7 linked regions of the Homo sapiens genome follow. The protein of the gene in region 2 purifies or fractionates together with the protein of the main gene of each other region. This does not show direct contact. Each region holds a gene or a part of one and is shown on either strand. Other genes may lie near its edges.

Region 1 (3,500 bases), on a different chromosome or scaffold from region 2:
AGGTGTAACCCTAAAACCAATAAATCAAGAAACAGATTAGGCAGATTACTTGGAAATTTGGAATTAAAGGCTAGAACAGACAGGTAAAAGTATGAGAGGAGGTCTCAGAGATAAGAGAAGGATGGGGAGGTGGGGAGAAGAAGACTAAAATTTTTTATCATGAGAATTATAACATTACTTTTATTATATTGACAAAAATCAAAAGTAGTTAAGAAGAACTCAAAAACTAAACTTATTATCTCCTTCCCTAAACTTGTCCTTACTTCCCTATTTTTCATCTTGGTTGGAAATACTCCCATCAACTCAAGTACTAAAGCCAGAAATCCAGGATGTATTCTTTATTTATCCATTTTTCTCTGGCCCTGCATTCCCACAGCCAATCAATCACCAACTGAATCTCCTAGATGTTCTTCAAATTCACCTTCACCTCTCTAAATCTACTCTCATGGCCTAATCCAGTTCTTTATTGTGACTTGCCTGGACTACTGCAAACCTCCAAACTAGTTTCCAACCTTGACTTTAACTCCTAATTAAATGAATCCCTCTATACTTCCCTCATGTGCTGCTGTCTCTCCTATTGAGGTGGCATCACTGTCTGGGGTAAATACCTGGGGTTCGCCATCTCATGCCAAGATTAAGGACATGGACACGCACAAGGAGTGAGTTTAGGAGCAGAGGTTTAGTAGGCAAAAGAAAGAGAAAGGAGAACACTTCTCTCTCTTGCAAGAGAGGGGCATCTGAATGGGAAATCTGGCCCTCCGTGGAGTGCACCAGATTTTATAGACAGGCTTGAGGAGGTGGTGTCTGATTTATATAGACAAAGATTGGCCCACAGATTGGCTGGACCAGGTGTGACATTTACATAGCATGCAGGGAAGCTGGCCACCTCACCCTAACCTTATTAAGCAAATGGGCTTTCCACTTGGCCAGCATTACTGTCTGTTCCCTACTGTACACATGGTTGGAAAGGAAAAGGGAAGACGGAGCTGCCATTTTGAACATGCCTAGCCCAGGTAGCCTTTTCCTATTGGCACAACTGCCGGCATTCACCTGTGCAAGCTTCCAGCTTACTTGTCTATGTGTGTAGCTCAATTTTATAGGCAGGCTGCTCTTTGTTAGAAAAGAAAATGATTTGGGGTCTGCTTTTCATTAAAAGGAAAACCTTACCGAGGACTCCTGTACTCTCACTATCTGCCCAAATAATTTCTTCTTAACGCCTATATCACTATTTTGGGAGGTCATAGAATTTATAGCATTTAAAAATTTGTTATGCAGCAATAGATAACCAATACAGAGGCAGGAGAAAAGCATAAGTAGGAAGTGGAGAAATAGGATGGAATCTAGAGAAGTCAGTAGAGAGCTGATCAGGGAGAGTTTTCTAGATATGCTAAGAATCTTTATCCTCTAGTGACTAGGAACTACTGAAGGGCTTGATAATTTGAAAAGAGTACTATGAACATCAATGTAAGGATGGACTTAAGCCAGAAAGACAGCAGGCAGGAAGGCCAGTTAATATGTTTCACAATAATCTAGAATAAAGATGACAGGAGTTTGAACTAGGGCTGGAAACTAGTAATAATAGCGTGGAGAGGGCAGACTTAAAAATAATTAGAAGGTTGACTGGGAGCAGTGGCTCACGCCTGTAATCCCAGCACTTTGGGAGGCCAAGGTGGGTAAGATCACCAGAGGTCAGGAGTTCCAGACCAGCCTGGCCAACATGACAAAACCCTGTCTCTACAAAAAAATACAAAAATTAGCCAGGCTTGGTGGTATGTGCCTGTAATCCCAGCTATTCAGGAGGCTGAGGTGGGAGGATCACTTGAACACCGGAGGCAGAGGTTGCAGTGATCCAAGACCACGCTGCTGCACTCCAGCCTGGGCAAAAGAGCGAGACTACGTCTCCAAATAATAATAATAAGAAGAAGAAGAAGAAAGTAAAACTGGAAGAAACTTGTGATTATATATTAGAGTTGAAATAGAACAAAGAATCTAGGATGATCCCAGATGTGACTTAGATGGCTGGGTGGGTGGACAGTGGTGCCATTAACCGAGAAAGAGAGAGACCCAGATCCCTGGGAGTGAAAATCAGCTCTGCTGCTAATCAGTCTAAGATGCTCCCAACAGAACATTAACAATGTTTCTATATACCCAAGGCCACTCTGCAGCTGCAGTATGATGGACAGTCCTTTTTTCTGAGCAACTGCTGTATTCTTACCAATGATAGCGCTTTGTCCCTCCCATCTCCTGAACAGAGACTGCTGAGAGTCTAAGTTCCTGAGCTGCCACGGGCACTTGGCAGCAGCTAATCCAGCGGGTACCTCTTCCCTGATCCCTCCTTCGACTCATTCAGCACAAGGCCAAATATTTCAGAGGCCTCTTCCCACTTCTCCCAACCTTTGGGTATGTGTCCTCCTTTGCTGGACATAATGCTAACACACCTAACTTTGTGTCATTACACATGTATTTCTCATATTCTCTGCTGAGTGGGTTTCAACTTCCATCCCACTTGAAAGGTGTGCTGAGAAAAGGTAGAAGGAGACTAAAAAATAGGGAGAAAAGAGACAATAAAGCCAGACCGTAGAGGATGGCTGCGGGCTCCCTATAGTACATTACATTCTAAGACGAGCAGGAAAGGCTCTGCCACAATTCCTGAATGTACAAGGTCAAAAGTTCCAGCCTTCACTTTGCCAACAGGTATATCCTTGGGCAAGCCAATTCACTTCTCCCCTTGGACTTCAGTTCCTTCATTTGTAAATTCTGGAGATTAGATGGACTATATAATTCCCAAAATCCCTTTCAGCTTGGAATGTCTAAGATTCTAAAAATGCAGCCAAGGAGATCAGGCTAAAACTGCTTCAGGCTTTGAGTCACAGGGATGATTCACGCAGGCTACCTTAATGAAAGAACTTCCACATCTGCTCTAGGTGCCCTGAACCTACACATTTCTGTCAGTGTTCGTAAGACAACCTAAGAAACCTAAGAAAGGCTATTCTTGGGGGGGCAGGGGGGCTACAACACTGATTAAATTACATGTTTTTTAAGCACAGATTTTTTAAAAATCCTATTAAAATTCTAAATCAGTGGCTTCCAGCAATTTTTCTCTGAAACAGACGTCTCGGATTTTGCAGACACCAATGTTCAGGCACACGTGTACACAAGAATGGTGGAAAGAGTCATGGTTTTACATGGAGTGTGCAGTCTGCCAGCTCAGAAATCTCCTGTGTCCCAACGGCACAGGCGGTTCATTCTCCTGCCAGCCAAGTTAATTCTACCAACATGCCAATAGTTAGAAGGGGAGAAAACAAAACAAAACAAATTATTTCCACTTGACTTGCTGATTGCTAATAATATTCTTCATCAAGTAACCCAGGCAGGAACACTTTTCATCTTCAGAATTAGCTATGGCTGCCATTTCCCCTTTTGTCAAATACAGGGAGATATTTCCCACGGTCTGCACATGACTCAGAATGGCTTCATCTTTATTTCACGTTCTACATTTC
Region 2 (3,500 bases):
TTAGCTTTCATTTCAGTATGAATTTTAGAATTGTTAGCTTCTTATCAAAGACCTAATTTTACCCTAGTCAGTCAAGCAACCTAGCATATGTTGAATTCAGAAATAGATCTTGGGGGCCTGTTTTGCTTAGACCAGTTTCTGTTGGCTGAGTAACCAAAAAACTTTGGGTCCTCGTTAGTGTAGTGGTAAGTATAAAAATAAAAATAAAAAAATTTAAAAATCTTTGGGTAAAGGATGTTTTACTCATGCCTCATCCAAAATGAGTGCAAGTCACCTTTCTTAGGGCAAACCCTGAAGTCTTCTGCTGGCAGGCATGTTCCTTTCCCTCTAGGCCAGTATGATGATCAGAGCCATATTCTTTCTTGACAGAGGCTGCCCCTCCCTTGTTATTTTACTTGTGAAATACAGACTGCAAGGTGGGCAGTAGATTGGATAAGTCTTCTTACTACAGTGGTTTTTGCCTGGAAGTTGGTAATTTTCAGAGAAAATTAAAATTTTTTTTTTTTTTTGGAGATGGAGTCTTGCTCTGTCGCCCAGGCTGGAGTGCAGTGGCACCGTCTCAGCTCACTGCAACTTCCCGCCTCCTGGTTTCAAGTGGTTCTCCTGCCTCAGCCTCCCGAGTAGCTGGGACTACAGGTGTGTGCCACCACCCCCGGCTTGTATTTTTGTAGAGACAGGGTTTCTCCATGTTGGCCAGGCTGGTCTCGAACTCCTGACCCCATGATTGACCCGCCTTGGCCTCCCAAAGCGCTGGGATTACAGGCGTTAGCCACTGCTCTCAGCCTTTTTTTTTTTTTTTTTTAAGTTCTGGGGTACATGTGTAGAATGTGCATGTTTGTTACATAGGTATACACGTGCCATGGTGGTTTGCTGCACCCATCAACCTGTTGTCTACATTAGGTATTTCTCCTAATGCTATCCCTCCCCTAGCCTCCCACCCCCGCTTTTTTTAAAAAAGAAATAGTTTTGCCACTCAAGTGTACTGGAGTTATCTGCTGTAGGGCCAAGCATACAGTAGATATTCCATAAATCTTTGGGTGTTTTTATGGTGAGAGGGCTTTGTACAGTATTAAACATGTCAACTAGTGCTCTTTAAATCTTTCCTAAACCATATTTTGTTATGAATCAGATTGTTAAATCTGTAGTCACTACAAAGACGATGTACCATGTTTAACTATTTAAGAAAACCATGTTTTATATGGATTCCCTAGTGAAACAATACCTTATGTAACCCAAAATGGTCATGGTTACATATATATAACATATGTTAAGTGGAGTGAATCAGCATATGTTAGGCACTGAGCTATGGGATGTTATGAATATATAAAGAGAAGGAAATTTTAGTTGTAACCTAATCCTTGTCTTTGAAGACTTAAAACTGATGTTGGGCTTCAGTTAACCACTCCCCACTCCAGAAAAATACGGCAAACTGTTAGATCACATTAGCTTAAATTATAGAGACAGAACTTAATGTGATTAGTAAATCCCACTGAGTTGATTGGGTTTCCAACTTGTGTTTTAGAATGGAGTTGAAAGTTGACGTGGTTGAAATGAGCTCACTTTTTGAAATTGACTTGCATCTCTAGGGCTTATAACTGGTCTTGGAAGGTATGGGTTAGGTGTATTCTGAAAGGAAGCAACTTATTATTTGGAAATCATTTTAGAGATGTGACAAGGAAAGATCAACATCTGAGAAAGACTAATAGGAAGGAAAGGCTGAACTGAGAGAATTTAAGGGCAAACAGAGGGGACCTGGGTGTCCACCTGTCAAAGATCAGAGGAGATTCTGAGACTAAAAAACTTACCGTGAGATTACCTAGCTAAGGACTTTATAGCCTCTTTGTAGTGTTTGTATTGTAAATGTGCTGAAATAAGTTGCTTGATGTCTCTTGCCTTTTGAGGAAAGGTAGGATCTACTCTTGAGGTGGACAATGGCTGAATTAAATGAAACTGAGCATGTGAGCATTCATTTGCCAGATAAGCACATCCCTAAGTGAATTTCTCTTCTTTCATACACAACAAAAGAACAAAACCTGAAATAAGTTAATAGCCATTGGCAGTGCTTAGAACTCAAAGTGAGCATTTCAGAAGATGAGCAGGCCCCAGAGTACACAGTATTTGGATGGATTTGATGAATATTTTGTTTGAAAACAAATCTTAACCTAAGCCTTTTGAAACTGGTAACATGAAAATGATTCTATCCTTATTCAGAGGCAGTATATTGCTGCACTTTGTATGCGTTGGGACCAGTTTAACAGATTCCTGTTAGAAGAGTAATAGATGTTACTATTTTTTGGTTTTTGGTTTTTGTTTGAGACAGAGTCTTGCTCTGTTGCTCAGGGTGGAGTGCATGATCTCAGCTCACTGCAACCTCCGCCTCCCAGGCTCAAGTGATTCTTCTGCCTCAGCCTCCCAAGTAGCTGGGACTACAGGCATGCGCCATCACACTTGGCTGATTTTTGTATTTTTTGGTAGAGACAGGGTTTCTACCTTGGCCTCCCAAAGTGCTGGGATTACAGGCGTGAGCCACTGTGCCCGGCCCAATGTTGTTATTTTAAGATATTCTTCAGATTTCCTTAGTTCCTTTATTGTATCATTCGCTTAATATCTACTTTAAATTTTAGCCTCGTGTCATAATTAAAGGAAGTAGTTTAACGAGGATTGTTAGCAGTTTTTGAGATACTCTGTTTCTAAATTTCTGTGTTGCTATACTTTTGTTTCTATTGTGAGTCTGTGGAAGAAATCCATGAACATGGAATCAGATTTAAAATAATTTTTTTCTTTAAAAATAACTTTAAAATGCCCCACTTATAAGATTTAAATGTGGGGAATACTTTAAATGACAGTATGATTCTTGTTGAATTCTTTGTGCTTTGGGATATCCTTCTGTAACCTCCTTTGTCATATACAATTTCAAGGTTCTACAAAGGGTGGCATTTCAGTTGGCTAAAGCTTGGTTTTGTGAAAACTATTGTTTGTTAAGAAAGTGGATTTAAAGCAAACTATAGTTCAAACAGGGAGACAAATATATGCAGGCAAGATGGAAGAGATGTCTAAGAAAATGTGTCTACAGTGTATCAGAGCGGTAGCAGAGCAGTTAGAATGTCTCCACAGATTTTTTTTTTTTTTTTTGAAACGGAGTCTTGCTCTGTTACCCAGGCTGGAGTGCAGTGGCGTGATCTCGGCTCAGTGCAACCTCCACCTCATGGGTTCAAGCGATTCTCCTGCCTCAGCTTCCCTAGTAGCTGGGATTACAGGTGCCTGCCACCACGCCCAGCTAATTTTTGTATTTTTTTTTTTTTTTAGTAGAGACGGGGTTTCACCATGCTGGCCAGGCTGGTCTCGAACTCCCGACCTCAGGCGATCCACCAGCCTCAGCCTCCCAAAGTGCTAGGATTACAGGTGTGAGCCACCACACCCGGCCGTCTTCACAGATTTAAACATGAACAAAAGGAAAAGAAATAGTATGCAGCTGTACAGACATACTACAGGAAAAAAAG
Region 3 (4,068 bases), on a different chromosome or scaffold from region 2:
GTAGTAATGAGCGTGCAGCTGCCAATGGTTCCAGTTGGCCCCAGCCTCTGATCCTGTGGGAGCCCCTGACAGAAAGAAGAGAGACAGTGGGGAGAGAGAGCCCTTTTACAGTTATCCAGGTTAGCACCTACTCCCAAACCCAACCAGGTATCTGAAAACTACATCTCCCAGGATCCCCTGCTTGAGAAGAGCTGGCAGGAGATTAGAAAGCACATTGGAGATGTAGTTTCACCAAGTTTGCTGCTCCACCCTCAGTCCCAGCATCTCTACTCTGGCCACTTCCCCCAGCAACTGTTTCAAGGCTTGCTCCTTTGAGGTTGCAGTTCACTAGGCTGAGCCCCAGGAGCCCAGAAATGGTGTTGGGGCTAAATATAGGTACTTGAAAAGCCTCACCATGCCAGCCCATGGAGTAGGGAAAGGACGTCTCAAAGAGGTTGTCATACTTGGTCAAGAGCTTCTTCATGATGGAGGCTAGATCTGGAATCAGAGCCTGACTCTCAGCCTGGGGTCCAGATGCTGACCCTACTGGGAGCAACCTCCATCCAGTGCCTAGCCCCAGGATCCTACTTGGGAGACTGACCATCACGCTCAGCAGGGGTCAGCTCAGGTAGCCGCCGCACATGCCGACGGGGCAGCAGCAGTGTCTGGTAGGGCCATGTTGCCCAGAAGGGGACCAGTACTAACCAGTGCTCACTGGTTAGGACCAGACGTTCCTAGGAAGACAGAATGGATAGGAAGTCATCAAGGTGACATAGGAGCCGGAGTGTGGTCAGCAAATAGGCAAGGGAAGCAGAAGAAAAGAATGTGCCCAGGATCTGATGTCTTCTCACCACCTCTACCACTAACCACCCGAGTCTAAGTCACCATCATCTTTCCTTTAGATTACTGGATTATTGCTAAGGCCTCCTAGCAAGTCTCTCTCTACTAGTTCACCTCTAGCTTTCTCCTTTACACACCTCTCTCATGGGATAAGAAAGTTAGGGACTCCTTGGGGACACAGGGCTTGGCTCTCTCCCACCTTCCTGAGTAGCTCCTGGCGGCTGTACTCCATTAGCAGGGGCTCTCCATGCTGACTCTTATAGGCCTGCTGAGATCGCTCCTCACGCTGGGCAATATCTGGCAGGAAACTGCTGGCCCATACCTGTCAAGGGGCAAAAGCAGAGAAGAACAGGCAGGTCCTTTACCTCCAAGCCTCCACATCATTGGCATATTTCCTCTGTCCCATCCATTAATCCTGTTCCCATGTCCACAGTGCTGGCTCAGACTCAGCCAAGAAACCCACTGGAGCCCCTGACACCCTTACCTGGCAGTGGGGGTGGGGGTTAGAACAGCCCATCATGGCACCTTTGTTTTCAAAGATCTATCAGATAGGGATACGGAGCTCTGTTAGCCAAAAGACACCAAGTCAACTCCCTCCTGACCACACCCTGTGGAAACAGAAATGTTACTCCCCAGAACCAAAGCTTCATCACCCCCTCCCTGCCCATCCAGGGGAAGGGGCGACCTCACAAACCTGCACCCAAGGGTACTGGGCACCCAGCTCCTCTGTGACTGAGGCCCATGCATCAACAACAGCCCGGATCTCAGGGACCGACATGAGTGGCAGCGTTACATCCGACCAGGGGTGGAAGCACATGACCTTACTGGGTGGTGACGGGAGAAAAGATAACCGAGAGGTAGGGCTTGGCTGTGCTACGGGCAGGGCCGAACCCCAATGCTGAGTCTCCAACTCTGGTTTGAAAGTTGTAAGAGGGGAAATCCATAGTTACCAGACTCCTCGAGCAGACTTTGCTTGGAAAAGGGGATGATCACTGGGTCCTGAGGTAAAGGAGTATCACTCTCTGCAGCAGAAGTCCCTCAAGAGGTCTAGCCACCCTCCTCCCCAGCAGCAGTTGGAGCCAGGTTACCTGGACTGGGGGCATCAGGCTGCAGAGCTGGGAAGTCGTTGTCAAACAGGAAGGTGCTATCGTACTGGGGATTCACCTACCGACAAGGATAGGCTAGAAGCACTCACTGCCCCATACCACCAGTTACCTGGTGGGCTTCAAAGACTGGACAGGCTACAAGGGAGTAGGGAAGGCCCACCCTAGGGGACCAAAAAGCTTGGTGGGATATGACCCAGAAGGAGGTTCACTATCCCTGTGGGTGGAGGACAGTTCTAAGAGGGAACTACTCCCCGTGGCCCAGCCTGCAGATGCAGGGCTCTACAGGCTTACCTCTCCGTTGGCTCGGATGGCCCCAGGACACAGAGGGTTGAGAGGGTCATGGCGGGGCACTGTCTTCAGAAGCTGGGGCTCCACTTGACCCTGCCAGGGCCGCTTCATGCGGTGAGCTGACACCAGCACCCACTCATCCTGCAGCGGGTTGTAGCGGATATGCTGATGGTCTGGGGGCAGACAGTCAAGATCAGTCCTCAGAGCTCTCTAGCTCCCTCTCTCCTGGGTCTCACCCACCAGCAGGCCCAAGCTCGGGAGCGCCCTCTCGGCCCTGTCCCGCTCAGGAGCTAGAGGCCCAGGATTGGACTTTCCCAGCGCCAATTGGCCTGCTGCTCGTACAGGCCTGCAGACTGTACGCCTTGTCGGTCTGGCTCGGGATGAGCGTTCCAACCTTCGGAGGGGACGAAAGCTTCCTAAGGAAGGGGAGGGCTCGGCTCCGCGCCCCAGCGAGTCCCTGCCGCGGTGCAGTTACCGTTTGCCCGGAAGGTTGCTGCTGCGGCGTCCGCCTCTGACGCCTGCTGGCGTTGCTGAGGATCGGTTCCACTGCGCGACATGAGGCCACCGGGGGATCCGCTGGAAAATCTGCAGGGCCGTGCCTCACCTTTCACTTTCTCCGTCCACACCACCCCTCCCCGCGCCGCCCCCGATGATTGGCCAGCCGCCAGCACGTGACTGACTGACTGGGCTGCCCTGCCACCTGGGGGCGGGGCTCAGAACAGCTGTGAACCCTGGGGGCCGACATTGATGATCCTACTTCACCCAGAGCTAGAGCCACTACACTGGAAGAACCTCTGTGAAAGCTGCCTACTGCAGAATCCTTGGGCTCCAGGATGCCTACAGGACTTGCTTGCTGCAATCATTCATTTGATCTTTCATTCAGCAAATATTTACCAAGCATCTAGCATGTGCTAGGCACCTAGGCTGTGTAAAGCATTGGGATGCACATGTCAGGCATGGCCTCTGCCCTGCCTGAGCTTACATTCTAGGGCGAGTAAGGATATGACCCTGGATCAACAGCGCCTCAGTCACCTGCTCAGTGGCTGTAGCGCAGGAGAGGCAAACTTGGTGGGGTCTGTGTGGAGTACTTCACCATAACCATATCCTATCCCCAAAAGCAAAAACAGATTTGGGAAAAAGGGCTAAGTAACCATATTCTCTTTTTCTCTCACTCTTGCTCTCCTTCCTCTCTCTCTCTCTCTCTTTTTCATACACACACCAAGACAGCACAAGAAGTGGGAGGGGTAAAAGGGCTATAAAAAAAAATCTAAAAATGGCCGGGCTCGGTGGCTCACGCCTGTAATCCCAACACTTTGGGAGACCAAGGCAGGCGGATCACAAGGTCAAGAAATTGAGACCATCCTGGCCAACATGGTGAAACCCCGTCTCTAGTAAAAAAAAAAAAAAAAAAAATTAGCTGGTCTTGGTGGCGTGCACCTGTAGTCCCACCTACTCGGGAGGCTGAGGCAGGAGAATCACTTGAACCCAGGAGGCAGAGGTTGCAGTGAGCCGAGATTGTGCCCATGCACTCTAGCCTGGCGACAGAGCAGACTCCGTCACAAAAAAAAAAAAAAAAGTACAAGAAAGTCTAAAAATGTGGAGAGTACAGGACTATCAGAAGCTCCAGCCACCATCTAGGTGGGGCCTAGTGTTTCCTTTACACATCCCCTTCCCTTTTCTAAATTTTCCTTGGATGGGACCAATTGGCTAACACTAGGATAAAATTCAAATTAATTCCTCCCCTGGTACTTTTGTTTGTTTGTTTGTTTGAGAGAGAGTCTCACTCTGCCACCCAGGCTGGAGTGCAGTGGCGTGATCTTGGCTCACTGCAACCTCCACCTCCCAGGTTCAAGCG
Region 4 (3,500 bases), on a different chromosome or scaffold from region 2:
TGAGCCAAGATCGTGCCATTGCACTCCAGCCTGGGTGACAAGAGCCAAACTCCATCTCAAAAAAAAAAAAAAAAAAAAAAAGGAGAAAAAGAAAAATTATCTTAGCATAAAGATGGAAATAAATCTCACGGAAAGGCACCAAACTATTAACAAGAGTTATTTTTGGAATGGTAGGATAAGTGGAAATTAGCACACCACATATTTTGGCACTAACATGATTTTTAGAATGAACTTGTGTATTTTATACTTTAAAAAATATGAAAAAATGTCTTACTTTGAAAGGAATACTTTATTGAGACAGAAAAAGAGAATTCAATTGGCTTATAATGAAATCCTTTCACTACACTATATTAAAAAGTGCTGTTATAATTCAGGAAAGAAGACAACTTACTGTTCACCTTCAGCAGGAGGACTCCAGGCCTCTTCAATCAGTCGAAAGACAGAATCGAAATAAGTCAGATAGAACTGCCAGTCATCTGAGCTAAAATCAGATTGAATGATGCACACAGGATTAAACCCAAGTTGTGACAGATCTTCCTTAGGAACCATGATATTCAATTTATTTTGTAAGTTATATTTTAGTATGTAGTAGGTTGGCTTACCCCCACCCACTCCATGTTTCCTTTGCAAATCTAAAAGGGCATTTTCAAAGTAATACTACTTTGTATTTGTAAAGAGTAGTAAACTACTCTTTCCTTCAATAAAATGACCAGGTCTAGAAAACTAATATTCATAACAGAAAAGTCCCCACATAAGCACTTCCAAAATAGAGGGAAGGGGAGAGAAGTGTTGTAGCAAAGAATGAAGCCTCTCTCTTTTAGGGGAATACTGAATTTGAGAAATTAATGATTTTCAGTGTTCATTCTTAAGCCCTAACTAGAATTCAGCACCATGGTGGCACAAGTATCTTTTTTTTTTTTTTGAGATGGAGTCTCATTGTTGTCACCCAGGCTGGAGTGCAGTGGCATGATCTCAGCTCACTGCAACCTCTGCCTCCCAGGTTCAAGCGATTCTTGTGCCTCAGCTTCCCGAGGGGCTGGGACTACAGGCACGCACCACCACAACTAGCTAATTTTTGTATTTTCAGTAAAGACAGGGTTTCGCCATGTTGGCCAGGCTGGTCTCAAACTCCTGACCTCAAGTGATCTGCCCACCTTGGCCTCTCAAAGTGCTGGGATCATAGGCATGAGCCACCATGCCCAGCCTACAAGTACCATTATAATACTCTACTGAAAGATGAAGGCTCCTTAAAAACTTTTAGAAACATGCAGGACACAACTACTATAAGAAGACTTTATGCCCAGAAACTTCAAAACACAGACACCAAGAAAATCAATAGTGAGGTCTTAAAGCCTCACTACAGTCAAATGGTACAAAAGAAAGCTTTTACTCACTTTTTTAGTAAGAGGCGCCGGGAAAGGGCATTGCACTCTGGCCACCTGCTCAGCTTCTTGTACATAGCCATGCATTTATTTTCCCGACTCTGAATCTCACTTGTCAACTTCTCTAAAATCAAAAGTTATAAAAGTTGGTAAGCTGGTTTCATTTCTGCTCAATAACCAGAATAGAGTCCAACCACAAGAAGGAAAATGTCACATTTTCTTTTCTTTTTTTTTGAGATGGAGTTTCACTCTTGTCACCCAGGCTGGAGTGCAATGGCACGATCTTGGCTCACTGCAACCTCCACCTCCTGGATTCAAGCGATTCTCCTGTCTCAGCCTCCCAAGTAGCTGGGATTACAGGCATCTGCCACCACGCCTGGCTAATTTTTGTATTTTTAGTAGAGACAGGATTTCACCATGTTGGCCAGGCTGGTCTTAAACTCCTGACCTCAGGTGATCCACCCATCCCAGCCTCCCAGAGTGCTGGGATTACAGCTGTGAGCTACCGGGCCCGGCCTAAATGTCACATTTTCTTATTCACTCTCTTAGAAAATGGGACCACTATTACATACAAACTACTACTATCTTATTAAAGATTATTTTACTTCAAAGAAAAAAGTACATTACTGACAGTAAATTTTTATAATCATTTTCTTTGTAAAAGGATAGGTTTCACAATGTATTGGGTTGAACATCTATTAATAGTACATGGGATATACTTATAAAATCCCAACAGCATCTAGGGACTAGTAAATTTAGTCCATAGACAAGCTGCCCATCCATACAGTTCCAAAACATCAAAGAGGACTGAGCTGACATGAGCTAAGAAAGATGAGATGTTGGAAGAAGACAAAAAAGAGTGGAGAGGAATCAAATCTTTCCAAACAACTGAAAACAAAAAAACTAGGATGATAGTTCTGACCAAATTAGATTTGCCCAACTGTTTAGCAGATTAAGGATACCAAAAATTACATTATGAATTTCCTGTTGAGAATCTAACTTTTTACTATCCATAGAGCTATAATGTAGTTTAAAAAAAAAAAAGGGCCAGGCCTGACAGGTCACACCTGTAGTAATCCCAGCACTTTGGGAGGCTGAAGCAGGCAGATCGCTTGAGACCAGGAGTTCGAGACCAGCCTGGGCAACATATTGAGACCCCACCTCTACAAAAAATATAAAAATTAGCCAGGTTTGATGGCATACGCCTGGAGTCCTAACTATTTAGGAGGCTGTGGTGAGAGGATAACTTAAACCCAGGAGATCAAGGCTGCAGTGAGCTGTGATGATGCCACTGCATTCTAGCCTGGCTAACAGAGCAAGGCCCTGTCTCAAAAACAACAACAACAACAAAAAAAAACAAGAAGTTTCTTGTGAGTAGCCTAAATATCCATCAAAAACTGGTTAAGTAAATTTCTACATTCACACTGTGGAACACTGGACAGTTATTAAAGGAGTGAGGTAGTGAACTTTATCTCTAGGAAATACTATTTAGTTAAAATAATAATAATAATAATAAAATAATGGAGGCCAGGCGTGGTGGCTCACACCTGTAATCCCAGCACTTTGGGAGGCAGAGGCAGGCAGATCACTTGAGGTTAGGAGTTTGAAACCAGCCTGGCCAACATGTTGAAACCCCGTCTCTACTAAAAATACAAAAATTAGCTGGGCGTGGTGGTGTGTGCCTGTAGTCCCAGCTACTCACGAGGCTGAGGCAGGAGAATCACTTGAACCCAGGAGGCAGAGGTTGCAGTGAGCCGAGATCGCACCACTGCACTCTAGCCTGGCCACAGAGTGAGACTCTGTCTCCAAAAAAAAAAAGAAAGAAAGAAATAATGGAGCCCAGTGTGGTGGTGTGTGCCCGTCGTCCTAGCTACTTGGGAGGCTGAGATGGGAGAATCACTTGAGCCCAGGAGTTCAAGTCCAGCCTGGGCAAAACAGTGAGACCTCATCTCTTTAAAATAAATAAATAAATAATAAAAATAAAGTATGGGTATAAGAGTATGCACAGCAGAGGTCACAAACTCAAATGCCTTCATAAGACAGACATACAAATAAAGAAGGAATGTTTGCGGTATCTACAGAGTACAAATCCTGACTAGAGGGGCATTAATTAATTTA
Region 5 (3,500 bases), 5.1 Mb from region 2:
TCTCCAACTCCAGGGTTCAAGCGATCCACTCTCCTTGGCCTCCCAAAGTGCTGGCATTATAGGCATGAGCCTCCCAAAGTGCTGGGATTATAGGCATGTGCCTGGCCAGTTGTTACTATTGTCCACATTTGCAAAGCCCTCATTCTTTTTCTTTTTTCTTTTCTTTTTTGTTTTTGAGACAGGATCTTGCTCTGTCGCCCAGGCTGGAGTGCAGTGGCACAATCATGGCTCACTGCAGCCTTGACTTCTGGGCTCAAGAGATCCTCCTACCTCCGCCTCCCGTATAGTCTGGACCATAAGCAAGCACCACCATGCCTGGCTAAATTTTTTATTTTTATTTTTTATTGAGACTGGGGGGTGGTCTTGAACTCCTGGTCTCAAGCAATCTTCCTGCCTTGGCCTCCCAAAATGCTAGGATTACAGGCATAAGCCACCATGCCCAGCTAAAGCCCTTACTCTTTTTTTTTTTATTTAAATCTTTTTTTACAGAGACAGAGTCTTACTATGTTACCCAGGCTGGTCTTGAACTCCTGGACTCAAGCTGTCCTCCCGCCTCAGCCTCCCAAAGTGCTGGGATTACAGGCGTGAGCCACCATGCCTAACTAAGCTCTCATTCTTAATCACTGTACTGTTTATTAGGTATATTGTGGTCTTAGGATATTATATGATCTCTCCGTTTAATTTCTTCATTTGTAAGGGTATAAAAATATTTACATTGAGGGTTTTAAAAATGAGATTAAGTGAAATAATGTACTTATTTTTTCAACAAATGTTTACTGATCTCCTACTGTGCTGGGATGAATACCAGGCATTGTTCCAGGTCCCGGCAAAGCAAGACAGCACAGTCCATACCCCAACAGAACTTAGAATCAGAGGTGGCGAGGCCAGACAGTAAAGGGCACACCAGGCAATTTCAGGACATCTAAGCACTGGAGAGGAGACAACACCTTTAGACACAGTGGTCTGGGAAGGCTTACTGGAGGAGGTGACCCCTGGCCTGAAGCCCTTCCCATGAAAGAGAGTGAACCATGCAAAGACAGGGGAGGAGTGGTCCAGCCTGCCCAGAGTGAGTGCTGAACCTCGCTTTCACCAGCAAAGCAAAGGAGATTGGGGTACTTCCTTGTGTGGAGATTGTTTTTAGAAGACAGCACACTCTGTCAGCTAGACTAGATCTTACTGTGACAAAAGACAGGCCAGGCCAGCCAGTTTTTCACAGTCTATTCCAGCTTGCACATTTATAACCCTTCTTCACAGGGCACTGCAAGCATGGGTTTCTGAGAACCAATCTTTATAAAAGTGCCTTGAATTCCTTGGTAATTATTTCCTTTTAAGCGTGTAACTCTTATTATTGCTAAACTGCTTTTTAAGTTAATGGTAGTTGTTGTCCAAAGGAAGTCTGATCTGTGTTTTTGAAACCTCAATGATCGTCTGTTTCTAATTAAGGAATTGGATGAAGACATGCATCAGAAAATTGCAAGGGAGATGAACCTCTCTGAAACTGCTTTTATCCGAAAACTGCACCCGACAGACAACTTTGCACAAAGTAAATATGCATTTTTTTTTTTTAAGAACTGTTCTGTCGCACGGGCTGGAGTGCAGTGGCATGATCTTGACTCACTGCAACCTCCGCCTCCTGCGTTCAAGCAATTATTGTGCCTCAGCCTCCCGAAGTGCTGGCATTATAGGTGTGAGCCACCACACCTGGCCTAAATATGCACTTTAAAATAATTCTTGAATGACATCAGAAATTATTTTTTAGGTGGGGGAATGATCTTTAAGGAAAATGCCCCCTTATTATTTGCATGCAGATAGTAGATAGAGCGGGAGATTCTGATTTGGTTTCGGTTCATTTGGGGAAGGGGGTTTTGGTGAATCTGAATGTTTCCATTCCAGATCTAGCACTGGGGAGCCCTAGGATGCTTGCCTAGCCATCATTCCTCCTTTTACAACATGTTTTGGCTACTCATCATGCTAGAGAACTATATAGGAAAGAAGAAAATGAGAAATCTGTGACCTGCTTGCATGGGAATGATCTCATCTCTCTTTGGCTTTTCCTATCCTCAGGTTCCTGCTTTGGACTGAGATGGTTTACACCAGCGAGTGAGGTCCCACTCTGTGGCCATGCCACCCTGGCTTCTGCAGCTGTGCTGTTTCACAAAATAAGTAATGTGATTTTCTTTAATGAATCTAACACTTAGCAAATGGCTTTTTTTTTTTTAAGTTCTCACACACACTTTTTCTGATGGTCCAAAGTGACTGGTATAAAGACTCTGCAGAGTTTACTTCATGCTATTCATAATGCAGAAACAAAACCAGCGACCTTCAATAGCACTTTGGCCTTTCTGAGTATGTGCCCAGCATCATTGGAAAGCTGCGATCAGAATGCTATTTTATTTTATTTTTATTTTATTTTACTTTCTGGTCTACAAAGAATTTGACAACCATTTTATTTTATTTTATTATTTTTTGAGACAGAGTCTCACTGTGTTGCCCAGGCTGGAGAGCAATGGCACGATCTTGACTCACTGCAACCTCCGCCTCTCTCCACCTCCTGGGTTCAAGCGATTCTCCTGCCTTAGCCTCCTGAGTAGCAGGATTACAGGCGCCCACCACCACACCCAGCTAATTTTTGTATTTTTAGTAGAGATGGGGTTTTACCATGTTGGCCAGGCTGGTGTCAAACTCCTGGCCTCCAGTGATCCATCTGCATCGGCCTCCCAAAGTGCTGGGATTATAGGCGTGAGGCACCATGCTTGGCCTCATTTTAAACTGGAGATCTCTGGTCTTTGTGAAGCTTGCATGGGCAGAATTGTCATCTCATACGATATGAGATTGGAGATCAACAGGAACATTTCACTCCAATTATTTCCGCTCCCACATTGAAATTCATTTCACAATAAGAGATTCTTCAATAAACATTTTTTTTTTTTTTTTCTGAGATGGGGCCTGGCTCGGTTGACCAGACTGGAGTGCAGAGGCAGGATATCAGTTCACTGCAACCTCTGACTCCTGGGCTCAAGCCATCCTCCCACTTCAACCTCCAAAGTAGCTGAGACCCCAGGTGCACACCACCACACCTGGCTAATTTTTGTATTTTTGTTAGAGACAGGGTTTTGCTATGTTGCCCAGGCTGGTCTCAAATTCCTGAGCTCAAGTGGTCTGCCCACCTTGGCCTCCCAAAGTGCTGGGATTACAGGCATGAGCCACCACGCCCGGCCAATAAGAGCTTCTTTGCTCTAAATTTGAAGATTCCTGGGCCCCCACTGTATACATTCACCTTAAAAGGAGTTGCAGCACCTTAATTCTGCCAGTTTCTATCTTAGCTGCATTTAGTTTAATGGACAAAGATCAGGGCCTTGTGGGGATGGGACAGAGAAGAGATTCCTGGGAAATGCCCTAAAACAGGAGATGGAAGCAGCCACAAACAAGCATAGACAGCAAACGGAAATGGAAACAAGGAAAGAAACAGGATGATAGGACAGAATGTCACTGTGGGGGAT
Region 6 (3,500 bases), on a different chromosome or scaffold from region 2:
AGAGGATTCCTCAATTTGCTTCCTACTGACAGCATGAGAGTCTGATCTTATAACGTTCATAAAAGGATAACTCTGTACAAAATATCTAAGGTGAGAAAGAGCAACCTCTTCCTGAAACTCCACAAAAAGCCCTACAATTACCAACATTTTTTTACCTTTATTTCCTCTTTGGATGAGAGCTACTCAACAAGAGCCATAGTGGCAGTTCCAATTAGAGAAGCTGAAAGGATTACAGTATAATACAAAACTCTCCAAAAACAACCCAGAGCTTGGGCTACTCAAGTAAATAGGAATACTGTTCTCAGTGTGGTAGTCTACAAGGTTCTTGGTACCTGTGGGCTCTGTGAGCAGTGCCAAAAGCATCATTGACATAGACATCCCCTAGCTTGGAAAGTGAAGCTCGGAAAGCTTCTATTTTGGCTGGCTCGGCTTTAACCTATAGAGAAAAACAAAAACAGAAAATGTGATGGCTCCAAAGACAACTATAAAAGCATTTCATACACCAAGAGTCCTCTTGAACATCTCTAAAGACCCTGAGTAGGTGGGACAGCGATTTTTTACAACCAGCAGTAGGATGTGTTCTTTCTTCCAAATATTCCAGATACTTTGGTCATTTCTGCATGTTTCTGCTCTCCCTTAACTTCCCTCAAATTGCAAACCTAATATTCCTGAACGATGGCTTTACCTCTAATCACATGAAGTTAACCACACCCCACTAGCCTCTCCCCAGCCTTCAGCTCAAGGTTCTGATTATCCTTCCCTCTCCTTGACTTAGTTCCTCATTTTAAACATTCTCCTTGTGATAGTATCATACTTGACTCAAGCTGCTGGCTACCAAGGCCTTTCTGCGAAGTGCAAGGGGCTCTCACACATATTCCTCATAAAAGCAACAAGGGCAAGCTGGGACAGAGAAGGCAGATGGAAACATGACAACAGAAAAGAACCTCAGAAACACTTCACATTGACAAAAAGGTATTTTATGACCTTCTCTGGAAGCTAGGCATCTGAGAAAACAAGAAATATACTTCTACAAAAAGAGAGGAAGAAAATGTAGAAGTTAAACATAGAGCTTTAAAATGTCAGCTTGCCATCAAGGCATACCCCAAAGGGGACAGAAAGCAAGATGGGAGGATAAGCAAACCAGAGAGTCTCTGGCAGGAGATTAAGCAAAGAGGCACAGGAAGCAAGCCAGATGAAAGGGGACAGGACACAGAAGAGTACATAGCACAAAGCAGATGTTCATTTTAAGTCACTGCCCACTCCTATGCTCCTATGTATCAAGGAGGTGAAGGGGACTGCCATAAAAAATGGGGCTTTTCCCTAAAGATCCAAAGAATTGCAGAGGCACTAATGCTAAAATTGAAGATTGTGGCACTCCCATAAGCTCTGTAGACTACAATAACATCTGCCACTAGTGATTGGAAGATGACACATGTAGTAATGATAACAATGCTCAAATGTAAGGAGACCTGAGTTCTATGTCCAGCTCTGACACTAATTCATTGTGTCACCTTTGGGAAGTTGCTCTGAAATTTTCCCTTCTATCAAAAAGGCATAATAACCCCTCCATTTACGAACTATTTAAGGAGGCCAGGGGCAGTAGCTCACACCTATAATCCCAACACTTTGGGAGGCCAATATGGGAGGATCACTTAAGCCCAGGAGTTCGAGATGAGCCTGGGCAACATAGCAAGACCCCGTCTCTACCAGGAAAAAAAAAAAAAAGTAAAGGTCAGTTGGACATGGTGGTATGTGCCTGTAGTCCTAGCTCCCTACAAGGATGAGGCAGGAGGATCACTTCAGCCCTCAAGTTTGAGGCTGCAATAATTAATGTCATGCCACTGCACTCCACCATGGGCAACAGAACAAGACCCTGTCTCTTTAAAAAGATATTTAAGGAAAAACAGGGTAAATTGAAAGCTCTTCATGAAAAAAGGTGCCATGGAAATAATATCAATCAGAACCCATTTCTCATTTACTGATCTGCAAATAACTAGAAGAAAGAGAAGGCCCTTAAAAGATCAATGTGGGCACTTTGGATAAAGGGAAAATGTTTATGTCCTCATATCCTCACTTTGTTTTTGTGGTTTTTTTGAGACAGAGTCTTGCTCTGTTGCCCAGGCTGGAATGCAGTGCTGCAAACTTGGCTCACTGCAACCTCCACATCCTGGGTTCAAGCAATTCTCCTGCCTCAGCCTCCGGAGTAGCTGGAATTACAGGCACTTGCCACCATGCCCGACTTTTTTGTATTTTTAGTAGAAACAGGGTTTCACCATGTTGGCCAGGCAGGTCTCGAACTCCTGACCTTGTGATCCACCCACCTCGGCCTCCCAAAGCGCTGGGATTACAGGCATGAGGCACCGCACCCAGCCTCACTGTTTTTTTAATCCATTTTGAACTTGGGACTGACTCCTGAAATTTCAGGTATTAAAAGCCATTAGATAGTGAATGTCAAGTCAGTTTACTAAAAAAGTCATAGACTACATAGTCAGCTCATCATTTCCTAAATAAAAAGTTTTGCTTCAATATGCCCTTTGCCTCCTGCCACTTCTAAGCCCTAGAGTTCATGCATCATGAGTTCCAGATTAAAAGGACACCAAATTTTAGGTCAGCATTTGACTCCTAATACTGCAGCAAGACCATGCCAAAAGCAGGATAAGGCAAGACCAGCATCTTTGGTGCTAAAAAAAGAAACTGCTTGAAAGCAGGCACTCCCAATGACCTTAATAAATGTGAGAAGCCAAAGGAGACTGAGACACTAGACTCAGAGCATCTTGTTCTCCGAGATACTAAAGACCAGAATAGTGGAAAGTACTAAAAAATGCCTTCAGCTTCCTTTCTAGTCAATGGGCAAATTCAAAATCATCTGCAAAGAGCCAGTTTTATCATTGAATATTTGAATTCTGGTTGTCAGTTCACAGTAATCTGTTTGGTGAGTTATCTATGGCTGCTTTTGCACAACATCGGCAGAGGTGAGTAGTTCCAACAGAGACTATATGCAGATGGAAGTGACTGCACAACACAGAAAGCCTAAAATATTAACTATCTGGCCATTTATAGAAAAAGTTTGCTGATTGAATGGGCTGAGCTCTAAAGACCAACAGCACCACTGCCTCTAACTTTAATCGTATGACTGCCTTTCAGAAACTTAAGTTTTTTTTTTTTTGAGACTTAGTTTCTTTATGAAATAAGTCGATACCTGTACCTCTATCTTAAAGAGAGATTTAAAGGAACATACTTTACACATCTTAAGAAAATGCCTTAAATCCAAGGTGACATCATCATGACCATCATATTCACTGAATACTCTTTCACCTCAAAGGTGTTCACATATTTTTCAAACATATTTAAACACCACCTGAACATGAAGGAGGGCTTCTGGGATGCTGGTAATATTCTATTCCTTGACCTGGGTGGTGGTTACACAAGTGTGTTTACTTTGAGATAACCCATCAAGCTGTGTCGGCATTGTATGCTTCAATAAAAGGTGTCTAAGTTAA
Region 7 (2,997 bases), on a different chromosome or scaffold from region 2:
CAGATGTCTGTCTCTCCTTTTTTACCCTAGTTCAAGTTTTCACCATCCCCTTCCTCCTCCTTGCATTCCAGTGGATACTCTCCAAATCATGGCTCTCTCTATCTGAGGGTTAGATTTGAGTCGGGGAAGGAATTAACATTTTTGCAGTGGTGATTCTTTTTCGGTATGAAAAATCTCAGGAAATGAAAAGCACAACTGTAAAGCTCATAAACCTTAAGTTTAGGGTAATGTTTCCACATAGCTGCAGCTGGACTGCTCAGAAGGGTCAAAAGAAGGCAACCCCTTTCTAGAGGCTGCAAGTCGCTGCTTCCACAGGGTGAAAGTGGTGAAATCTGTGAGATGTGGGGCATGGTGGTGGAGGGGGAGACACTTTCTGAGTCACTTGAGAAGTAGATCACTTTAAACTGCTGGAGGGCTGGGCTCATGGAAGGAAGTGACCACCCATACATAGCTCCATTCCCAGTTCCTTTTACTAAGAAGACAAGACAGAAGACAAAGAATAGGTAAAACAGGATGTAAAGTTTATATACAAGAATATAATGTTTATCTGAAATATTTACAGTGTTGGTTAAAGCAATATTTTTACAACTTTTAAAGGTAAACTACTATGTATATTACAGGTAAGCTACAATGGGTTTAATTTGCAAAAGTTAAGTAAGAAATGTTTTAAACAAGGCTTAAAGTACTCAAGTCAATTATAAAATTTATATCTTTTGCCTTTTACTTGAAGAAATCATGCTATAGAAATGGTTAATGTGCTTCTAATAAATGGAAGTATTGTAGCTGGAATGTGATACATGTAACAGTTTAAGTTCCCATTGAAGGTATAAAATGATGAATTGTTGTAAGACTTAGACACTGAGTCTCAGTCTGGAGCTGATGAAGATGTTGAGATAACAGCCAGCTTTATCTCAACAGGGTTTGTGACCCACAAGTTTGGGCCACAGAGAAAATTGAAGCAATTTGCATGTTATGACAACCTCAGTGGGAAGTGAAAATCAGCTGACTCAAAACAACAAACAACAACCAACCAGACCCAAGTCACAGTTGCACCTATTCAAAACTAGCTTTAAAGTGAGCTATTTTTAAACTTCATAAAAATATTCATGATTTTATTAGTTTGAATATTTCTACAAGATTCGGGTGGGCTTTTCCTTTAGGTGAAAACAGCTATCCACTCCTGTGGCCTTATAACTCAGGAAATGCTGGGGATGCAAACGTGCAAAAGGCAGGGGGAAGCTGCCCAGGCTGAGACTGGAGCAGCTAGGAGTGTGCTTGGGGAACGGGAGCTGAGATCCCGGAGCAGAAATGGTCAGCCGTGCTCTGGAGCAGGCCTGTCGGAGCCATCAGGATGCCGGGACTAGCACTGCAGCTTGCGGATGCTGCGGGAGATGCGCTTGAACTCTCTCTGCCCCTTCTGCCACCGCTTCACCGAGGTGATCACCAGCTCCCCACCCTGTTTCTGTCCCATGACCAGATAGGGCGCGTTGATGTCGTTCATCTCCTCACAGGTGCACTGCAAGCTGTCTTTGAGCCACAGCACCGATTTCTTCAGGTCCCTTTCGGACACACCGTTCAGCTTGTAAATGGTCTTGCTCTTGGTCTCCAGGATGATTTTGGTATCTCGGTTGATGTAGGTTATCTCCTTCACTTTTATTTTCAGTGCTATGAGGGAGGGCAGAAAGAGTCATGCCAGTTATAATGAGGGAATACAGTATACCTCCCCCCATTCTGCCAACTCGTGTGACTTGGCCTGGATGAGGAAAGAGAGGCTTCCTAGAGCTAATGGGACCCTCAGAGGCTGCAGATCGGGGGTTGGGAGCTAGGGGCAGCAGGTGGCTCCACTGCTAAAGCCTCAAAGCATTTGCCAGGCACTTGGTTTCCAATCAGCCATTTTTTCAAAACTCTCTCTTTGCGGGACTCAATTAACTTTTCTTCTCCTTTCCTCACTCACCCTTGTGTTTGTAAGAAAGTTGCATGTGGTGTGTGCTCTCTCCAACAAATGACTTCCTCTGTTGGAAACTTAAGCATGAAAAGAAATGCCTGACTTTTAGGTGAAATATGATCCCTCTGTGGCCGTAAAGTTTAAACTCAATTTATTATGCAAGAGGTTTTTGGACAAACCTGTAAGGAAACTGTGTCACGCAATCATTGTTTTCTAAAGATCAGATTACAGGGAAGGAGAATTGATCTTACAGCTGCATTTGATTTGGTAAAGCAGGAGAAACAATATGCAAGTCTCTTTTTAACAGCACAACGTGGTTAGTCATAAAAGTGTTTTTCTGAAGACCTCATCCTTATATGCTCTCATTTGCCAGTCCAAGGCCAAGGCGTTTACGGATCATATATGTACTGTTTCCAAAATGTATATGTAGACTCGTTAGAATGCGAAGACCAAAAGTAAGTGGTTTACTATAAAGGACACGTTTTATAGTCATGAACAGTATGCTCTGGGAAAGAAAGCCCTACAAACGTGTATGCTGGAATTAAATTTCAAGACTCCATGAAAGCAGGAAAAGAATAGAATTTTAAGGTTAGAAGGGATCATCCCATTAAAATTGCTTGTTAATACACAAAGAATCTTAAATCCAGAGAAGTTTAGTGACTTGCATGAGGTCACCCAGTTTAGGTTGTTTGCTAGAACTCCAGTTGCCAAACCTCCTCCTGTAATACCACTGTGGTGTCTTGAGGCAATGTCCATGTTTTTGTAGTGGTTGCAGCATAAACTTGCCCAGCTGCAATGTGTCCTAAGACCCTGTGTGCCCCTGACAGCTATTCTGTATAGATGATGTGTAAGTATGACTTCCTGACTTTGATGGAGTTTAATCTATGTTTAAATTAGTAATAGAGGAAGATTTTTCTGTGTTGCGTACAACTGTTTTTGAGATTTTCTTTTTTTTTTTTTTAAATATCAGAATGGGAATTTGACTGAGTATGGCTTTCTAGTCAACCAGGAAATTATAGAATCTCTAGCAGGTAAATCAAAAATGCTATGAC

Evidence for each region.
Region 1: the proteins of NRBF2 (region 2) and CPVL purify together in Homo sapiens (affinity purification with mass spectrometry; one large-scale study listed by BioGRID and IntAct). This does not show direct contact.
Region 3: the proteins of NRBF2 (region 2) and GALT purify together in Homo sapiens (affinity purification with mass spectrometry; 3 studies listed by BioGRID and IntAct, with this or other methods). This does not show direct contact.
Region 4: the proteins of NRBF2 (region 2) and NAA25 purify together in Homo sapiens (affinity purification with mass spectrometry; one large-scale study listed by BioGRID and IntAct). This does not show direct contact.
Region 5: the proteins of NRBF2 (region 2) and PBLD purify together in Homo sapiens (affinity purification with mass spectrometry; one large-scale study listed by BioGRID and IntAct). This does not show direct contact.
Region 6: the proteins of NRBF2 (region 2) and PGK1 purify together in Homo sapiens (affinity purification with mass spectrometry; one large-scale study listed by BioGRID and IntAct). This does not show direct contact.
Region 7: the proteins of NRBF2 (region 2) and SFRP2 purify together in Homo sapiens (co-immunoprecipitation; one large-scale study listed by IntAct). This does not show direct contact.

The regions. Positions count from the first base shown.
Region 1 is NC_000007.14:29,136,538-29,140,037, forward strand, and holds part of CPVL (probable serine carboxypeptidase CPVL isoform b precursor), read right to left. Parts: intron 1-3,500. UniProt on the Homo sapiens protein: May be involved in the digestion of phagocytosed particles in the lysosome, participation in an inflammatory protease cascade, and trimming of peptides for antigen presentation.
Region 2 is NC_000010.11:63,146,828-63,150,327, forward strand, and holds part of NRBF2 (nuclear receptor-binding factor 2), read left to right. Parts: intron 1-3,400; exon of another isoform or gene 3,401-3,500. UniProt on the Homo sapiens protein: May modulate transcriptional activation by target nuclear receptors. Can act as transcriptional activator (in vitro). Involved in starvation-induced autophagy probably by its association with PI3K complex I (PI3KC3-C1).
Region 3 is NC_000009.12:34,645,407-34,649,474, reverse strand, and holds the start of GALT (galactose-1-phosphate uridylyltransferase), read right to left. Parts: upstream 2,801-4,068; 5' UTR 2,771-2,800; coding exon 2,689-2,770; intron 2,387-2,688; coding exon 2,217-2,386; intron 1,984-2,216; coding exon 1,908-1,983; intron 1,819-1,907; coding exon 1,770-1,818; intron 1,644-1,769; coding exon 1,514-1,643; intron 1,361-1,513; coding exon 1,304-1,360; intron 1,142-1,303; coding exon 1,019-1,141; intron 714-1,018; coding exon 581-713; intron 478-580; coding exon 394-477; intron 66-393; coding exon 1-65. UniProt on the Homo sapiens protein: Plays an important role in galactose metabolism.
Region 4 is NC_000012.12:112,074,284-112,077,783, forward strand, and holds part of NAA25 (N-alpha-acetyltransferase 25, NatB auxiliary subunit), read right to left. Parts: intron 1,507-3,500; coding exon 1,395-1,506; intron 482-1,394; coding exon 392-481; intron 1-391. UniProt on the Homo sapiens protein: Non-catalytic subunit of the NatB complex which catalyzes acetylation of the N-terminal methionine residues of peptides beginning with Met-Asp, Met-Glu, Met-Asn and Met-Gln. May play a role in normal cell-cycle progression.
Region 5 is NC_000010.11:68,294,929-68,298,428, reverse strand, and holds part of PBLD (phenazine biosynthesis-like domain-containing protein), read left to right. Parts: intron 1-1,443; coding exon 1,444-1,543; intron 1,544-2,064; coding exon 2,065-2,163; intron 2,164-3,500.
Region 6 is NC_000023.11:78,114,248-78,117,747, reverse strand, and holds part of PGK1 (phosphoglycerate kinase 1), read right to left. Parts: intron 437-3,500; coding exon 333-436; intron 1-332. UniProt on the Homo sapiens protein: Catalyzes one of the two ATP producing reactions in the glycolytic pathway via the reversible conversion of 1,3-diphosphoglycerate to 3-phosphoglycerate.
Region 7 is NC_000004.12:153,780,091-153,783,087, forward strand, and holds the end of SFRP2 (secreted frizzled-related protein 2 precursor), read right to left. Parts: intron 1,666-2,997; coding exon 1,361-1,665; 3' UTR 501-1,360; downstream 1-500. UniProt on the Homo sapiens protein: Soluble frizzled-related proteins (sFRPS) function as modulators of Wnt signaling through direct interaction with Wnts. They have a role in regulating cell growth and differentiation in specific cell types.